3 separate regions of the Homo sapiens genome follow, and regions 1 and 2 are each linked to region 3. The links come from fine-mapping of genetic effects on gene expression. A gene starts in region 3. Each other region holds a variant in brackets. All regions are shown on one strand. Distances are between the middles of the regions. Region 1 overlaps CHERP (calcium homeostasis endoplasmic reticulum protein). Region 2 overlaps C19orf44 (chromosome 19 open reading frame 44). Region 3 holds the start of SLC35E1 (solute carrier family 35 member E1).

Region 1 (4,095 bases), 34 kb after region 3:
AGCTGGAGGTTGCATTGAGCCGAGACCACACCATTGCGCTCCAGCCTGGGTGACAGAATGAGACTCCATCTAAAAAAAAAAAGCAGCTTGAAAGGAGGCCAGGCCCAGTGGCTTGTGCCTGTAATCCCAGCACTTTAGGAGGCTGAGTCAGGCGGATCACTTGAGGTCAGGAGTTCGAGACCAGCCTGGCCAACATGGTGAAACCCCATCTCTACTAAAAATACAAAAAAAATTAGCCAGGCATGGTGGTGGGCACCTGTAGTCCCAGCTACCCGGGAGGCTGAGGCAGGAGAATCGCTTGAACCTGGGAGGTGGAGGTTGCAGTGAGCCAAGATCGTGCCACTGCACTCTAGCCTGGGAGACAGCGAAACTCCATCTAACAACAACAACAACAAAAACTTGAAAGGCTGAGAGAGTAGAACATTGCAAAGGGGCAGTTTCTTGAACAAGAAACAGAGAGAGAGTTTATGTGTGTATTGCCAGGCACAGTGGCACACACCGTACCCCCAGCTACTCAAGAGGCTGAGGCTGGAGGGTTGCTTGAGCCCGGGAGTTCAGGGCTGTAGTGCGCTGTGTCGATTGAGTGTGTGCAGTAAGTTCAGTGTCAGTATGGTGACCCCCTGGGAGCTGGGGACCACTCGACTGTCTAAGGGGTGGTGAACTGGCCCAGGTCAGAAATGGAGCAGGTCGAAACTCCTGTGCCGATCAGTAGTGGCCTCACGCCTGTAAATAGCCACTGCACTCCAGCCTGGGTGACATAGTAGAGAATCTATTTAATAAAAGAATGTGCTTGTATGAGGGAAGAGTTTGACCTGGAGTGTTAACTGCCAGGGGAAAAGTTTGGGTTTTTTCACTCAATCCAGGGGTTTTTCTGATGCCTATTTAGGTTTGAGATGCGGGGGTGGGGTGGAGAGAGATCAGCTGCCTGAAATCGTAAGCAAAATATTGTATGTGCTTATGTGTTTCTAGAGCGATCCTTCCTTAGCCCCAGCACACCAAGTTTAAAACCGTTGCTAGGCCGGGCGCGGTGGCTCACGCCTGTAATCCCAGCACTTTGGGAGGCCGAGGCGGGCGGATCACGAGGTCAGGAGATCGAGACCATCCTGGCTAACACGGTGAAACCCCGTCTCTACTAAAAATACAAAAAATTAGCCAGGCGTGGTAGCGGGCGCCTGTAGTCCCAGCTACTTGGGAGGCTGAGGCAGGAGAATGGCGTGAACCTGGGAGGCAGAGCTTGCAGTGAGCCGAGATCGCACCACTGCACTCCAGCCTGGGCGACAGAGCGAGACTCCGTCTCAAAAAAAAAAAAAAAAAAACCGTTTCTAAAGGCAGCGGGAAGCCACAAGAGTTTTAAACAAGGGAGAGGGTGGCTTGGGTTGTGTGGCCGGTGGTGTAGGACAAGCTACAGGGACCAGCCTGGGGAGCAGTGAGGCCTGCAGGGGAGCAAACAGGGCAGTTGTTTAGGTGAGAGATGGTGGGGTCTGAATTAAGTCAGTAGGTTGAGCCTGAGGGAGGGAGCATGGGGGGCAGGTGGGGTGAAGGGGTAGAATCCATGAACTTGGGCGCCAGTTGCATATTGACGACCTGATGGTGTAATGAGCAGGGGAGGAAGACACCTCAGACGGTGCTTTGGCTTGGGTGACTGAGCTAAGGGCTGCTTTCCCTTTCTGGGGCGG[G/T]GGGGTGGCCACTTGGAAGCTGGTGCCATTATGAGGAAGGAGAGGGTGCTTATGCTTATAGCCCAGGAAGATTGAAGCCAAGAAGTGCTTTCTTTTTTTTTTGGAGATGGAGTCTTGCTCTTGTTGCCCAGGCTGGAGTACAGTGGCAAGATCTTGGCTCACTGCAACCTCTGCCTCCCAGATTCAAGCGATTCTCCTGCCTCAGCCTCCCAAGTAGCTGGGACTACAGGCGTGCGCCACCACACCCAGCTAATTTTTGTATTTTTAGTAGAGATGTGGTTTCACCATGTTGGCCAGGATGGTCTTGATCTCTTGAACTCATGATCCGCCCACCTTGGCTTCCCAAAGTGCTGGGATTACAGGCGTGAGCCATCGTACCCAGCCAAGAAGTGCTTTCTGTGGGTGATGATATCTTGGCTAGATGTAAAGGGTGTGTTGGAGTTGGCCAGGTGAAAACAAGGGGAGAAAAGTGTTCCGGGCAGAGGAAGGAGCCCTTGGAGGGAATGGGGAACCCAGAGCTTAGGGTGGCTGAAGCCCAGAGTAGGAGGGGTTCTTGGAGTGGCCAGAGGTGGGGGTGCAGAATTGGGAGCCTGGCTTGGGGAGGAGTTGGAGGCCTGGCTTGGGGAGGAGTCGGGGACCTGGCTTGGAGAGGAGTGAGGAGTGTATCCTGGAAGCGTGGGAGAGACTCGTGGAAGGTTTAGGTCTGTGTTGTGAAGCTGGGTTAGCCACAGTACAGCCAGTTCTGCACCCCACGCCTTAAAGCCTGGGCCTCAACTGTTGTAGAATGGAGCTTCACGAACTCTGTGGTGAAGGACCATTTCTGGTGTTGTGTTTTAAGTTTCTAACCTGTTGTGTGTGGACCAAAACTTCTGCAAAGCACAGTAACAATGTGGACCGTGAACCATCACGCTGCTAGAAAGGTTTTGAAATGCTCCCTTTCTGGTTCCATAACCGTCTGTCACCGCTGGGTAGCCCAGGGACCACTCCATAAGTGGCAATACCATGACTGCCATGTCAAAAAGAGGTAGAGGGATGGGACCTGATGCAGGAAGACCGGTTCTGGGGTGACGCAGGTGACAGCAGATCCATGGTGGTGACAGCGGGGACATAGACTGATTGGAGTGATGTCTCGGAGGCCGCCTTGACACTATGTGGCTCGTCACTGGGAGGCACATGCTACTTCTGGCCTGGGTTTCTGGGCAGATGGTGGTGCCAACCATGGTGCGGGGAGCACAGGAGGGGACATAGGTGTAGGGGGTGAGAGGAAACACAGGCCCCTTGGAAACACAGTGGGCCGTGCAGTTGGTGGTTAGGGCCAAAGCTCAGGAATCCAGAATGGAGATGATGGATTTAGGAATCACACCATGCACAATCGCAGCCACAGGAATGAGTAGCTCATGTTGCCCGGCGGTTGCGTAGAGCGGAGGACAGGGCTCAGAACACAGGCCGCGCACCCCAGCATGTGAGGGTCCAACGGGAGAGGGGTTGGTAAAGGGGGAGAAAGGGACTGAGGGGGCGAACACATGGAGGCCAAGGGAGGCAAGCACCTGCGACAGGCCCGGGGGGCTGAGTTGAGTGAGGGTGTCCTCAGCTGCCTGGGGGAAGGAGGGGGGTGCGGGGAGTGGCAAGCAGGCACCAGGCTGAGATAAAGGGGAGGTGAAGATCTGGAGTGAGTCTTGTCTGAGAAATCGTTTAGAGAGGGATCATGGGGTAAAGGGAGAAGTTTCCAACCCAGAATATTCTGATGTGTTTATTTATTTCCTTTTTTATTTTTTGAGATGGAGTCTCACTCTGTCACCCACACTGGAGTGCAGTGGCGCCATCTCGGCTCACTGCAACCTCCACCTTGCAAGCTCAAGCAATTCTCCTGCCTCAGCCTCTCAGGTAGCTGGGATTACAGGTGCCCGCCACCACGCCCGACTAATTTTTTGCATTTTCAGTAGAGACAGGGCCATGTTGGCCAGGCTGGTCTCGAACTCCTGACCTCAGGTGATCACCCGCCTTGTCCTCCCAAAGTGCTGGGATTATAGGCGTGAGCCATCATGCCCAGCCCAATGTGTTTAGATGCTGCTGGGGAGGGACGGGTAAAGAGGGAGGAGTTGGAGAAATAAGAGATAGAAGAAATATCAATAAGCAGTGTCCCTCAGACAGTGGGAGGGGTGGGATTCAGTGCAGAAGTTGGGGGTCATCCTGTAGGGTGGCTTTGGGTGCACAAACTGGAGGGCACAGTCAGCCCCGAGACTTGACTTGAGCGCCCAGTGAGGGGCGACACCTTCCACCTGACACCCCACCTCCCTTATCTTTGGCTTTGTCCTGGTCCCCTTGGAGTGGGGCTCTGGAGGGCTCCAGGGGTACCTGGTCACATTTAGACCAGGCGGCCCCAAGACGGAGAGAGAGGCAGGTCATCTTGTCCAGGGCC
Region 2 (4,095 bases), 54 kb after region 3:
AGTGCCTGAGGCCTCTTCCTGTGGCCTCCCCACGACGCCTGGCTGCTGCTGACCCTTGGGCACCCTTCCCTGCAGAAGTCGGAGCAGGTCGCGCTCCTCCAGAAGCCGCTCCCGGTCCCAGTCGCGGTCCCGGTCCAAGTCGTACTCCCCAGGAAGAAGACGCCGGTCACGGTCCAGGAGCCCCACCCCGCCGTAAGATCCTGTCTTAAGTGCTGCGCTGGTAACTCTGGGAAGCTGCGGTGCTTTGCTGTGAATGTGGAAACATTGGTGGTTAGGAGACTGTGTTAGGAGGCCGCCAGCATTAGCCCGGGGACAGTGGCACCCCTCACCCTTCACCACAGTAGCCACTTGGCGAAGCCTGAGGCAGTAACTGGGGTCTGCTTTCTAACCACCATCTGGGTTGGAGGTGTCCTGCTCTCAATGCTGAGCGTGGGGTGGGGGCCAGCGTCTGGAGCCCCCTTATCTAGCTGAGACAGGATAAACGGGTAGAGACGCAAAATCTGCATACGGTGTCACCTGGTGACAGTGAGCATGCACGCAAGCTGCGGCTGTGAGGTCCTCATCACTGTCATTCCAATAAATGTCTCAGTTACTTCTTAAAAAGAATAACCTGTCTCGATTTTAGTTCCTCTGCTGGTCTGGGTTCTAATTCGGCGCCTCCCATCCCTGACTCAAGGCTCGGAGAAGAGAACAAAGGCCATCAGATGCTGGTGAAGATGGGTAAGGCGAGGGAATGGGGAGGGCGCGGGATGGGTCCTCACGCGTGCTGGGCCCGGGAGTCACCAGCGCTTTCTCTTCCTCAGTGCATGTGGGGATGGATGGAGTCAGGCCGGTTCTGACTCCACCCAGACCCTCTAGACAGGGCCGGCCTGCGGGTTCTCTCTACCCATTTCCCATGTCTACACTGCCTGTCTGGACATTCAGCCCCCCACGTGCACCCCCATCTGCCTCCGCCTTGTTGTGGTTGTGACTGCGTCTCTGTTTCCAGGCTGGAGCGGCTCAGGCGGCCTCGGTGCGAAGGAGCAAGGGATCCAGGACCCCATCAAGGGCGGGGACGTCCGGGATAAGTGGGACCAGTATAAAGGCGTGGGCGTGGCTCTGGATGACCCCTATGAGAACTACCGCAGGAACAAGAGCTACTCCTTCATCGCCCGCATGAAGGCCAGGGACGAGTGTAAGTAGGCGCCCATGCCGGGAGCCGCGCCGGTGGCCAGCGGTGCCGGCTGTGGGACCTTCCTGGCTGACTGGCAGAGGAAGATTGCAGTGACAGCTCAGTTCTTACACCGTCTCCACTTGTGGAGAGCCACAGGAAGAGAAGGAAGACCAGCGCATGCCCAGTGGGAACGCCGTGCTCCATGGCGTGGAGGGCACGGGTGCCACCCACAAACCACACCAGGAGGCGCTGCAGCCACCAGGGCCCCAGGCTCGTTTTCCTTTATAGCGAAGCAAAAAACACAAGACCCTCCGCCCGAGTAAATTCTTCAGCCACGAAGGGATGGATGTGCATCTGCCCTAAGTCAGATTGAAGCCTCCTCCTAGGCTCCAGGAGGAGCATGTGCAGGAAGGGTTGGCCTGAGCCAGAGCCGGCACCCCAGCTCCTTCCTCCAGCTCCCCGCACCCACCGGCCCTGACCTGGCTTCCCCTCGGCTGTGTAGGGACAAAGCCGAAGCCCAGTGCCATGACTGCCCGCGGATTGAAAAACAGAAACACAAAACTTTGACTTGACTTGCGAAGTGAAGCAGGGTTTTCATTTTTACTCTCCTTGGTTTAGGTCTAGAAAGAAGAATACTGACCTGAGAGGAGGCCCAGTGAGATTCTGAAACCTAATTCTTCGAAGGCGTACTGGCCCTTAGTTCAGTTATTTTAGTTGTATAAGTTGATATTTTTTTTCTGGAATGTAGCCATTTGCTGTTATCTGGGAAACAAGATTCTAACAGGAAACCAGCCTAAGACACTTCAGGTTGAGCGCTGCCTCGGAGTCTGTGCCCGTCGCGTCCCCTGCTTGAGTTTTGCACTTGGAAGAACCCTGCACCGGCTGGCGTGTGCGACGGCCCAGTCCCATCCAGAGCATGGAGCCCGACCCCAGCCAGCGCCTTCCACTCCATCATTTCATTTCACACCCCCGAAGGGAGGGGAGGCCAGGAGGGGAGCTGCTCCTGCCAGAAGCTGGTGGGTGACCGTTGGGAATCGGCCACAC[C/G]TGGTGTCCATGGGCAGCCTGGTGCAATTCCATTCATTTGTACAGAAACATTTTTGAAAAATTCTTTTCAATAAGATGCAAAATCTTCCAACTTTTCAACCCAACGTGATGAATATTTGATTTTGTTCTAGATTTCCTGTAGCTGTGAATTGTTAAAATGTATGATTCAGGATAAAACGTAAACACGTGCTGTTAGTAATTTCTTGTGGATTTCATTGTTTTGCCTTCAAATAAAGCCTTTTTTTAAAGACCTTTCTCCCGCACATGTGTAAGTCAGAAGTGTGCACGGGCTGAGTGAGGAGACACATGTCCTGGTTTGAGCTGTGCAGCCTGGGGTCAGAGGCCGTGTCCAGGGGCTCACATGGCGTCCCCAGCGTGCTGACCTGGTCCCATGTCCTTACCCTCGAGCAGGGCTTCTCCCATCCACCCTGTCTCCCTCTGGCTCACTGGGATGCCAGGACCTGCCTGGGTGGAGCTGCTCTGCAGAGGCTGGTGGCCCCTGTCCTGCTGTGAGTGGGGACAGCTCCACTGAAATTCTATTTCCACTGGCCTGTGGTGTCATAGAGCTGGGCATGCTGCTGGGAGAGCTGTCACTGAGCTGGGATTTGGCTCAGAGGAGTCTGGGGCCCTCACCGCAGCACCACCTGCCCCACCATGGAATGTCACACCTGGATGCTGACTGTGTGTGTGTGTGTCCATCACCCCAGTACCACCTGCCCCCACCACGGAACGTCACACTTGGACACTGATGAGCTCTATGTTTGTGTGCGTGTGTGTGCACTGAGTACACAGGACGGGATACCTTTTGTTAAGACGTCACGTCAAGCTCCACCTGCTGGCGCTCACAGCTCCTTGTTCACCTCCTCCAGGGCATCCTCCATGGTCAGTGGGGCAGGTCTGTGGCACCTAATGTACTGTCAGGCAGAGAACAGACCACGCCATCACCATCGTCACCTCAGTACACTCTGAGACAGGGTGCTGGAGGAGGGAGTGGAGCCAGCACCTGTCCCCAGCAGGCTCCTGTCAGTGACAGAAGTGTAAAACCACAGGATGTGTGTGACAGGTTGGCGCACGGGGCTGTGGGAACACAGGGTAGAGGGTCAGCCCTGCGAGGGGTGAGCCCTGACAGAGAAAGGGAGGGGTGCCTGTGAGTGCCCTTGGAGTGGCTGAGATCAGGGAGAAGCGCCTGGAGCAAGCAGCTGGGAGCTATGGTGGGCTGCAGCCAGGTGGCACAGTCAGATGGCTTCTGCCTGCATCGGATGGGCTGATGGACGCCCAACAGAGGCATGAGTTCAAAGCCCCCAGAGGGCTGCAATGAGCAAAGTTGACATTGTAGAGACCCGTGGGACTCACAACCTGCCCTCTTCAGCAGATAAACCACAAGGAAACGAGAGGCCTGGCATGCAGGGGACTCGGCACAGTTCCAAAGCAGCGTCCCGGGGCATGTGGGAGAAACGCCTAGCTCCAGGCCCACCCCGCCTGCTTGCGGGCCCAGCATCGCTTTCACAGGGCTTCCAGGGGATCCCCAACCGCTCAGCATTGAGAACCGGTCGCTGCTCTAGATTAAGAGGCTCAAAGGACATATCGGATAGTATGGACTTTGGATCCGAATTACCAAATCGGAACAAAACACACAACTTTAAATCAGACAAGCAGAAATCTCAACACTGGATATTCCTTGATACTTAGTAAATTTGGTTTGTGTATTATTGCATTATGGTTGTTTGTTTGAGACAGAGTCCCGCTTTCTCCCTCACTACAGCCTCAACCTCCCCAGCTCAAGTGATCCTCCCACCTCAGCCTCCCAGAGAGCTGGGACTACGGGCACACACCACTATGCTAAACTTAAACTAGTTTTCTTGTATTTTTTAATAGAGATGGAGTCTTGCTATGTTGCC
Region 3 (4,095 bases):
CTGAAAGGCCACCCCATGGCCCTGGCCCCCAGCTGCCTTATTAGCTGGTTGGTGCTGACTCCAAAAAAATTTTTCTCCCTTGACTATAAAGTGCTCATCTTTTAGTTCCCCCTCGTCCCTGAAACTGTAGGCTAAGACTTTGGTTTTCCAGTTTTTCACTTTGGAATAGGTCATCTTACCCATATCTGCTTAATTTCACAAATGAAGAAACAGCTACACCTTAAGACATGCAGTCTCACAGGGCAAACCAAAGGTTCCTTCCAGCCTGTAAGACTACAGTCAGTCCAGAGCCAGTTTGAGAGCTAGCAGGGATTCCTGGCAAAAGCTTGGTGCAGAACACACTCCCCTCCCCAACAAAAGGCCATGGGCAAAGTGGCTTTGAAGGCAGGATGAGGTTGAACCCAGGCCTACCACCCACCAGCTGTGTGGCTCTGAGCTCATCTCTTCACTCCTGTGCACATGTCCCCATTTGGGGGGTGAGAATACCCCAGAGTTGTGAGAACTAAAACACAAAGCATGTCAGTGTGTCAGTGGAAGTATCTGACACTCAGCTGTGCTGTAGGGTGCCTATAGTTATACTTTCCTAATTTCACTGTGCCTATGTTTAACAGCTCTGCTGAGACATGGTGTCCCAAGGATGTGACTTTACTCTGATCCACAGAGGGTACAGCTGGAGGATATTAGGGTGCAGAGCTTGGCCTCCTATCAGCATCTCTAGAGTTTTGGGATAGGTTGCAGCTCCCCACTACCCCTGCCTGCAGGGACTACCATGCCTGTGTCCATGTATCCAGAAGGGCCTAGGGCCTTTGAGAATGCAAGGATAAGCTAAGATACCTTCCAACATTTGGGGAGCCAAGTTGGGTTGCTGCTTTCTACTTTTCTTTGAGACTGGGTCTCGCTCTGTCACCCAGGCTGCAGTGCAGTGGCGCCATCATAGCTCACTGGAACCTTGACCTGGGCTCAAGCCGATCCACCCACCTCAGTCTCCCTAGTAGTGGGTACCACAGGCGTGCGCCACCACGCCTGGCTAATTTTTGTATTTTTTGCAAAGATGAGGTTCTGCCATGTTATCGATGCCACGATCTCCAACTCCTGAGCTCAAGCAATCCGCCCACCTTGGCCTCCCAAAGTGCTGGGATTCCAAGCTTGACTCACTGCACCCAGCCGGTTGCTGCTTCTAATTTGACAAGTAAAAACACTGTAACGGAATTTTAACACCCTTTCCCCGAAAAAGTTGGAGGCACACGATGTGGAGAACAAATTATAGCCCTTGAATTAGTATAAGATCATCTTACTGAAAACCTCGTCCTGTTTTCCTCCACTGGGGCCTCCTGGGGCTGGTCCATCCCGGCTGGTCCTTGGACATCAGCCGTCAGGGCCCGGCACCTCCCCCTTCTGCAGAGCCTTGGAGACAGGTGTCCAAGGACGCTACCATGACCACGGTCCCCAGTGTGGCCAGGAAGCCTAAGACAAGTCGCTTCCCCATTCTGGACTTCGGTCTGTGAAATGCGGACAGTGATACCTACCGCACCGCGTTCCTAGGATTCAGTGGGATGATACCAGGGCCACGCCCGAGAACTGCGCACGTCGCGGTGGTTTCCAGAACATGATTCCAGGGATCGGGTGCTCCGGGATAGTCCCACTGCCAGAGTTTGGCCACGAGCGTGCGCCCCCAGTTTGCAGAGCGAGTTTAGCCCAAGAGCTTTTCACAAATGGTTTCTTTCCCTAAAAGGCCTTTTACCTTTGGTGTCAGCCGCCGCCAGCCATCAGGAATCAGGAATCTAGTTAGCGGTTGCCCTTGTATCCCTGGTCGAGGCCCTGATGTTTGGCCCACGCACAGACGCCGACGCTGCGAAGCCCTCCGCGCTTCTGTTCGCCCGTCCCGTTCGAGCTCCGGCTCCCGGTCACTGGGACCGCCCACGTCTCAGGTGGCACAGCTTGGACGCAGGTCTGTGTCCCCTTCTTCCGCTTCCGGCCTCGGCTCCGCCGGAAGCGCATCTACAGTGGACTGGGCCTGCACTCGAGACGTGGTGGCTGGCGCGTCGGCCGGCGCGGAGGGATGACGCGAGGAGGCAGCGACCAATGGGAAACGGCGTAGACCGGGGCGCCTGCCCCCCCGCCCAGCCCCGCCCCCGCCCGGCGTCGGGCCGTCGGACGGGCTGGAAGGGGCGGCCGCTCGGGCAGGATGGCGGCGGCCGCGGTGGGCGCGGGCCACGGCGCGGGGGGCCCGGGCGCAGCGAGCAGCAGTGGTGGGGCGCGCGAGGGCGCGCGGGTGGCGGCGCTGTGCCTGCTGTGGTACGCGCTGAGCGCGGGCGGCAACGTGGTCAACAAGGTGATCCTGAGCGCCTTCCCGTTCCCGGTGACCGTGTCGCTGTGCCACATCCTGGCTCTGTGCGCTGGGCTCCCGCCGCTGCTGCGCGCCTGGCGCGTGCCCCCCGCGCCGCCCGTCTCGGGCCCCGGACCCAGTCCGCATCCGTCGTCCGGCCCGCTGCTGCCGCCGCGCTTCTACCCGCGCTACGTGCTACCGCTCGCCTTCGGCAAGTACTTCGCGTCCGTGTCAGCGCACGTCAGCATCTGGAAGGTGCCCGTGTCCTATGCACACACCGGTAGGTTCCGCGCCCGGCCTCGGGGGCGGCGGCCGGGCCCGCCGCTTCGGGTTTGGGCGCATGGATAGGAGTGCGCCGCCCGGGGCGCGTCCCGCCGGACTGAGAAGTCAGCAGAGGGGCTGCCAAGGGTTTGGTAGGGGAGGGACACGCACGGGGTTCTCAGGGAGAAGAGGAGCTGAGAAGAGAGCTGAGAGGTAAGCAGGACAGACCACAACAGCCGTGGCAGGAGGAAGCCCTACCGAAAGAGAAGGGGCGAAGAGGTGTGAGGGGCTGCCAGGCCCTCCCATCCCGCCGTGGAGGTGGAACAGGTTGGGCCCTGAAATTCAGGCAGCCCCCTGAGTGCCCATCCCTCTCTTTGCAGTCAAGGCCACCATGCCCATCTGGGTGGTCCTCCTGTCCCGGATCATTATGAAGGAGAAGCAGAGCACCAAGGTAACCCCGGGCAGGGACTCTGGGCAGATGGGAGCTCCAGGGGGTTCCTCCCTGTTGCCAACTGGTGACGTGGTCAGGATCCTGGTCTGCAGGCTGCCTGGCTTCCCGTCAAATAGGGAAGTCAGTGTAGAGGTCTCCAGTGGCCTTTTACTACTCAAGTTCTAGAATCACCCTGTGAGCAGTGGTGTGTGGAGTATGTGTCCCTCTGTGATCTCTGCTGTGTGGTCTTAGGAACACTGTTGTCCCTTTCAGATCCAATTTTCCTCCCCGTTTTGATTCCCTACCTGGGTTTGCTGGTAGGTGATGGGTTGGTCACATCTTGGCCATACACCCCATGTGTGGCCTTTCCAGTGGGACTAGGGATGGATGGATCAGAACGCTGTCGGTTAGGTGTTCACTTTTTTTTTTTTTTTTTTGAGACGGAGTTTTACTCTTGCCCAGCCTGAAGTCCAGTGACACAATCTCAGCTCACTGCAACCTCCGCCTCCCAGGTTCAAGCAGTTCTCCTGCCTCAGCCTCTCAAGTAGTTGGGACTACAGACGTGCACTACCACACCTGGCTAATTTTTTTGTATTTTTAATAGAGACAGGGTTTCACCATGTTGCCAGGCTGGTCTCAAACTCCTGACCTCAAGTGATCCGTCCGCCTCAGCCTCCCAAAGTGCTGGTATTACAGGCGTCAGCCACTGCACTTGGCTAGGTTTTCACTTCTTGACAAGAGATTTCTGTCAGGGGACCTCTGGGATCAGAAGCCAGACGCGATCCAAGGAGTTCGATCTTGGCAAAATCCAGCAAAGTCTTAGAAATTAAAACAGCCAGAAGTTGTGATGGTCTGGGAACGGAAGCGAAAGTGGCACACAGGACTCAGGGCTGCATAAGGAGGATGCTTTGGGCACAGTCCAAATTCTGTTCAAGATGCCAAGCCAGGGTATTTCCTGGCTTGGGGCAAGAATAGCCATGGCTTTAGCCGGAGACAGCTTTATCCCGTATTCTTAAGTGGAAGTTGGGCGCTTGTTGTCTCAGCCGGAATCCATTTCATGCTGATGCTGGACACCGTG

Evidence for each region. PIP is the estimated chance that this variant, and not a neighbour inherited with it, causes the effect. A credible set is the group of variants that fine-mapping cannot tell apart.
Region 1: its variant is the best candidate, but not a certain one, in a credible set for the expression of SLC35E1 in whole blood (INTERVAL, PIP 0.54).
Region 2: its variant is the best candidate, but not a certain one, in a credible set for the expression of SLC35E1 in whole blood (TOPMed, PIP 0.50).

Annotation. Positions count from the first base shown.
Region 1 is chr19:16,536,368-16,540,462 of GRCh38, reverse strand. The region is part of intron 2 of CHERP (calcium homeostasis endoplasmic reticulum protein); the gene reads left to right. It also overlaps the pseudogene RN7SL146P. Among named protein-coding and RNA genes, the nearest start is that of CHERP, 4.0 kb to the left of the region's middle. The variant G/T (reference allele first, on the strand shown) is at 1,677.
Region 2 is chr19:16,516,246-16,520,340 of GRCh38, reverse strand. It overlaps C19orf44 (chromosome 19 open reading frame 44), which reads right to left. Exons shown (of 9, transcript NM_032207.4): 8 at 3,000-3,111; 9 at 1-247. The coding sequence ends at 3,040. CHERP (calcium homeostasis endoplasmic reticulum protein) reads left to right here. Exons shown (of 17, transcript NM_006387.6): 15 at 76-192; 16 at 626-720; 17 at 989-2,447. The coding sequence ends at 1,182. Among named protein-coding and RNA genes, the nearest start is that of C19orf44, 22 kb to the right of the region's middle. The variant C/G (reference allele first, on the strand shown) is at 2,198.
Region 3 is chr19:16,570,455-16,574,549 of GRCh38, reverse strand. It overlaps SLC35E1 (solute carrier family 35 member E1), which reads left to right and starts at 2,135. Exons shown (of 6, transcript NM_024881.5): 1 at 2,135-2,606; 2 at 2,968-3,038. The coding sequence starts at 2,186. It overlaps LOC105372295 (a long non-coding RNA gene), which reads right to left and starts at 2,000. Exons shown (of 3, transcript XR_936360.3): 1 at 1,742-2,000. RefSeq lists enhancers at 1,829-1,918, 1,226-2,100 and silencers at 2,019-2,238, 2,369-2,478, 2,639-2,768.